Linked DNA regions of Homo sapiens: region 2 is linked to region 1. The links come from fine-mapping of genetic effects on gene expression. Tissue or cell type: thyroid. Region 1 holds a variant in brackets; the other region holds the start of a gene. All regions are shown on one strand. Distances are between the middles of the regions.

Region 1 (2,675 bases):
GGGGCAGAGATGGAAATTGCGTGGAAATGGCCCTCAGTCACCCCCCCGCCAGCTCCATCCTTCTCTAGCCTCCTCCCTGGAGCCCCAGCTGCCCCTCACCGCCACCTGCTGCCACCACACCAGCTCAGAGATGCTGTCTCACCCCAAACTCCTCACGATGATCCATGCTAACTTCTCCGACAAGGCGATGCCTCCTCTTTCAGCCACACCTGAGATTCCCCTCCTCACCACCTCCCAGAGCCCTCCAGGAAGTCTCTTCTAGCACCCAGAGCCCAGCACATGCTCAGGACACCCCTCACCTGGCCTCACAATGCTTCCTAAAATCTGTTATTTCCTCTATTTCTGCAATTATAGTTTTTTGTTTTTTGGTTTTTTGAGACAGAGTCTCACTCTGTTGCCCAGGCTGGAGTGCAGTAGTGCAATCTTGGCTCACTGCAACCTCCACTCCCAGGTTCAAGCGATTCTCCTGCCTCAGCCTCCCAAGTAGCTGGGATTACAGGCGCCCACCACCACACCCGGCTAATCTTTGTATTTTTTGTAGAGTCAGCCATGTTGGCCAGGCTGGTCTCGAACTCCTGACCTCAAGTGATCTGCCCACCCCTCAGCCTCCCAAAGTGCTGGGGTTACAGGCGTGAGCCACTGAGCCCGGCCTCACAGTGCTGGGGTTACAGGCGTGAGCAACCAAGCCCGAGCCTGGTCTGCAATTATACTTTTGTTGTTTGTTTCCACTTGAGGACTGATAGCCAGGGTTTATCCCCGCCCCTCCCCAGGCACTGTGGATGTTGGGACGGACCACTCTCTGGGGTGGGGCGTCCTGGCCCCTGCAGGGTGCTGAGCAGCGTCCCTGCCCCCACCCACTCCATGCCAGGAGCGCCCCTGTATCAGGACGGCTCGCCCAGGTGGGAGCCCCTGAGCTGAGCCCCGTGAGGGCAGTGGCTGCACCCCCAGCTCCTGCTCAGCGGGGCCTCGGCTCGTCTTTCTGGATAAACGCCACCTGCTGCCCGCCCCCAGCACCCCACCTGGCTTTGCCTCCTAGGACTCCTGGCCCCTCTGGGGGTCTGGGGACGCCAGGCGAAGAGGGCAGACCCACCTGGCGCGTGGCAGGCACGGAGAGGCTGAGGCCATCAGTGGAGATGTGGATGGAGATGCTCATGCCGGCAAAGCGAAGGTTGCTCTTGCCCAGGACGGACGCCAGGGCCTTGTTGGGGGCCTGAGTTGGGGGCGGAGCACAGCGAGGGCGGCTGTGGGTGGGGGCTGTCGAGGGGCTCCCAGGATGGCCGCAGCGTCCCCACAGCCCCCGACTGCCCCACCAGCCCCACGAGAGACCACAAGCCTCACTCACCTTTTTCTTCCAGGATCCCCGGACGCCAGGCACGGCCTCATGGAGCCGGTTGATGGCTTCCCTGGGGTTGGGAGGAGGGGGCTTA[G/A]AGAGTGTGGTGGGGGTGGCCATGGAGGGAGCTGGGGAGGAAGGGGTCAGAGAGGGCGGGGGTCTGGGGAGGGGGCAGGAGCTCAGAGAAGGGCGAGAGAGAGGGGAGAGGAAGGCAGAGAGGGAGGGGTGGGAGAGGATCAGGGGGCCTAAAGTGGGCAGGGAGGGGGCTGGGGAACCTGGGGGAGGAGTGCCCCACAGGACAGGTGCAGCTTGGGCACCAGCCCACTCCACGTGCGTCCTTGCATCCGGCAGAGGCCCGGCCCCCAGCTCTGGCCCCTCTACCACCCTCTTTCCCAGGGACCAGTGTGTCCCTGGCCTCGGCCCACAAGGAAGGCTCGGCATCAGATGTGGGGGTTGGAGCAGCGAGCAGGAGGCCCTGAGCCTGACGCGGGGTCCGTGTCGAGATCCTGTCTGCAGCCTGAGTGGTGGCAGGAGCTGACCCCAAACAAGAGCGCCTCAGACCACTGGTCCCCAGGAGAGGTTAGAAGTCTACAGGGTCCTGAAGGGGCCCCGGAAATGTCGGCGTCACGTGGAGAAACCAGATCCCCCACCCAGGGCATGTGGGAATTTTCACAGCACGGCCACTGTGGAAAACAGCCTGGGGGCTCCTCAAAAGGTTAAAAATTGGCCAGATGCAGCGGCTCCTGCCTGTCATCCTAGCACTGTGGGCCTGACACAAACAAATGCATGCAGGCGCGGCGGCCCCCACCTGTCATCCCAACACTTGGGGAGGCTGAGACGGGCGGATCACCTGAGGTCAGGGGTTCGAGACCGGTCTGACCAACATGGAGAAACCCCGTCTCTACTAAAAACATAAAAACTAGCTGGGTGTGGTGGTGGGCGCCTGTAGTCCCAGCTACTGGGGAGGCTGAGGCAAGAGAAATGCTTGAACCCAGGAGACAGAGGTTGCAGTGAGCCGACACGGTGTCACTGCACTCCAGCCTGGGCAACAGAGTGAGACTCCATCTCAAAAAAAAAAAAAAAAAAGGAGCAAGGCTCTGACCCAGGCCACAGCGCGGACACACCTCGGGAACGCCATGCTCAGTGAGAGACGCCAGACACACGAGGCCACGCAGCGTGTGATCCCATTGCTATGAAATGTCCAGGACAGGCCGATCCACAGAGACAGGGAGGGGATGCGTGGGTGCCGGGGCTGGGGAGGGGACGGGGAGTGGCTGTGATGGGGACGGGGTGTTTTGATGGGGTAATGAGAATGTTCGGAACTAGACAGTGGTGATCGTGTGAC
Region 2 (2,675 bases), 22 kb after region 1:
GTGTTTGAAAAGGTTCATTTATCATAAGACCCAAGGTAAATAAACAAAGGCCGCTTCCTTGGCCGCCCTGGAAGTCCCTGCTGCCTCCCATCTGGAATCCTGGGGTCTGTCCGGGCGCCAGCCCCTTTCCAAACACCCCTTCCCGCACCCCCACCGCAGGCCAGCGTCTCGGGCCCCGTCTGTCATTCGTGAACAGCTGTCCGGGGGGCTCCGGTGGCAGAGACGCCCCGGCCGCTCGCCGCTCTCGGCCTCGCCCGCCCAGTCCGAGTGGGGGGCGGTGCACCTGCGCATGCGCGCCCCTCCCCCGCCGCCCTCTCCCCGCCCCTCCCCACGTGACGCCGTGGGAACCCGGACCCCAGCGCCTCCGGGTGGGGGCAGCCGCCGGCCGCCGGCCGGGGATGGGGGTCCGGGGTGGCGGGAGAGCAGGAAGGATGGGGAGGGGACACCTGGCTCGCGGGGTCCGGGGGTCCCGGAGGAGAGGGTGGGGGAGGGGAGGCCGCCGCGAACGGGCTCCCGGGGGGGGTGGGGGGGACTCACCCGCACGACGTAGGAGACCCCGGGCCCCAGGACCCTGGCGTCGGGGTGTAGCCAGCCGTGCGCGGGTTTGTGGATGAAGCTGCCCTTCCGGATCCACTCGGCGGCGGCGGCGGCGTCCCCGGACCCCGCCGCCCCCCGCCCGCCCCGCGACCCCCGCGACCCCGCGCCCCGACAGCGGCTGAGCGCGGGCAGGGGACAGGGCGCGGCGCAGCGGGGCTCGCAGGCGCCCAGGACGGCGGCCGCCAGCGCCGGGACGCCCCCCGGGCCCGCCGGCTCGGGTTGGGGGTCCGCGCCCCCCGAGGCCCCAGCCGCCCGCGCCGCCGCCGGGCCGCGGCCCAGGAAGCCGCCCGGGGCCGCGAACTTCCACTGCGGCATTCGGGGCAGCAACGCGCAGAAGGTGGTGGGCGCCTCGGGCTCGGGGGGCGCGGGGGGCGCCGGGGGCGCGCGCCCGCCCGGACCCTGCGTCATGGCCGCGGCCGCCCGACGGAGCCCGACCGGGCGCTGCGCCTGGCGCGGAGGAAGCCCTCCCGCTCCGCCCGCTCCCTCCCGCCCCCCGGCCCGGTGATGTCATCCGCCCGGCCCAGCGCGCAGCCGCGGGGGGCTGCGCCCCTGGGACCCCGGCCCTCCTCGTCCCGGAGCCTGGCCGCGAGGCTGGGGAAACTGAGGCCCTCCGAGGACACCGGGCGCTGGCCTGGAACCCGCAGCCAAGGCGGGACGGGGCTTTGAACCCAGAACCCCGTCAGCGACCCTCCCCGCTGCGCCCCCCACCCCCGCCCGCCGCCCAAGTTCGCAGAAGGACCGAGCTGGAGAAGCTTAGAAATTCCACATCCCTTCTTTCCCCTATTTCCTAGTGGGGAAACTGAGGCCCCGGGAGGCGCGGCCAGGGAAAAGAGAACCCCAGACCCTAAGGTCAGCCCCTCCCTCTCCGTTGTTGCAGCTAGAAGGTACCTTAGGGTCACCCCTATTTCTTAGTGGGGAAACTGAGGCGCGGGGAGGGGAAGGGGCGCGGCCGAGGGCTCACAGACGAAGCTCAAACCCAGGAGTGCCGGCTCGGGGGTGGGGGGGGGGGGCGGGGCTAGGAGCGGAGCCGGGCCCCTGCTCTGCGGCCTGTCCCGGCCTCAGTTTCTCCGGCTGTAACTCAGGGGAGCGGGCTGGAGGGTCGCGGCCCTTCTTCCCTCACTTCTGGGGAGCCCAGTCCCGCACCAGCTCATCTGAGCTCTGGGCCTCAGCCTCCCAGGCCGGTCGCTCCATCCCCAGCCTCAACCTCTCCGAGACCGGCCGCACCTTCCCTGGCCTCAAGGGTCGGTTCCTTCTGCACCAGAAAACGGGGTGTCACTGTCACCCCGGGACCCAGCCTCCTGGCCCGACTTGGCTGGAGCTCCCCTGCACCTGCCCCGCCCCAAGCAGGGCTGATTGCCGGGAACAAAGGGAGGGGCCGGGACGCGCTGGCAGGTGGGGAGGGAGGGAGGGGCGAGGCTGCCCGGAGCCCGATCGATAATTCAGGGGATGAGATCACAGCCGGCGCCGCCCGCGGGGCCGGGGAGGTGGGGGAGGGGAGCGAGGCGCGCGGTCGCGATCGGCCGTCTCTGCCGCGGCGCGTGTCGGACTCAGCCCCTGCGCGTCCGCGGGAGGAGCAGATCGTGGGCGCGATTGGTCGGGCTGGAGCCGCGGCTGGACCTGCGCGCGGTGTGTGTGTTGTGCGCAGGGTGTACGCTGTGTCTGGGTGCGTGTCCAGGCATATGCAGGGGATCCAGGCTGCTGGGTCCTGGGGTGTGTTCACCTAATGGGTAAAGGGTGGGACAGGTTTGGCGGCCCTAGGCTGAGGGCTGTGGGCTGAGGAGAGAGCAGCCCCACCACCCCCTCTCTGCGCCCTGCATGCCTCCCAGGCTGCATCCCTCAGGGAGGTCCCGGGGCAGTGTCGCACCCTCCCAAGCTCCGGGATTAGGGTCTTTCTGGATGGGAGGTTTGTAAGGTGGTCCAGGTGCCATCCCTCCCTGGCACACAGAGGGCTCAGTCACACGGCACCCCCGGTGTGTTTCCTTCCTGTCCCTTGGAGACAGTGGCAGGAACTCAGTCCAACATCCAGAGTTCAAATCCTGACATCAGACTGAGGTGGGGGCTCACAGCATGCCCCAGGA

Evidence for each region. PIP is the estimated chance that this variant, and not a neighbour inherited with it, causes the effect.
Region 2: it holds the start of SHC2, and the variant in region 1 is fine-mapped to the expression of SHC2 in thyroid (GTEx, PIP above 0.99). The same link has a PIP of 0.9 or more in atrial appendage, breast, esophagus mucosa, esophagus muscle, hypothalamus and prostate.

Annotation. Positions count from the first base shown.
Region 1 is chr19:437,628-440,302 of GRCh38, forward strand. SHC2 (SHC adaptor protein 2) reads right to left here. Exons shown (of 13, transcript NM_012435.3): 3 at 1,343-1,403; 4 at 1,091-1,210. Among named protein-coding and RNA genes, the nearest start is that of SHC2, 22 kb to the right of the region's middle. The variant G/A (reference allele first, on the strand shown) is at 1,428.
Region 2 is chr19:459,992-462,666 of GRCh38, forward strand. SHC2 (SHC adaptor protein 2) reads right to left here and starts at 1,042. Exons shown (of 13, transcript NM_012435.3): 1 at 538-1,042. The coding sequence starts at 1,005.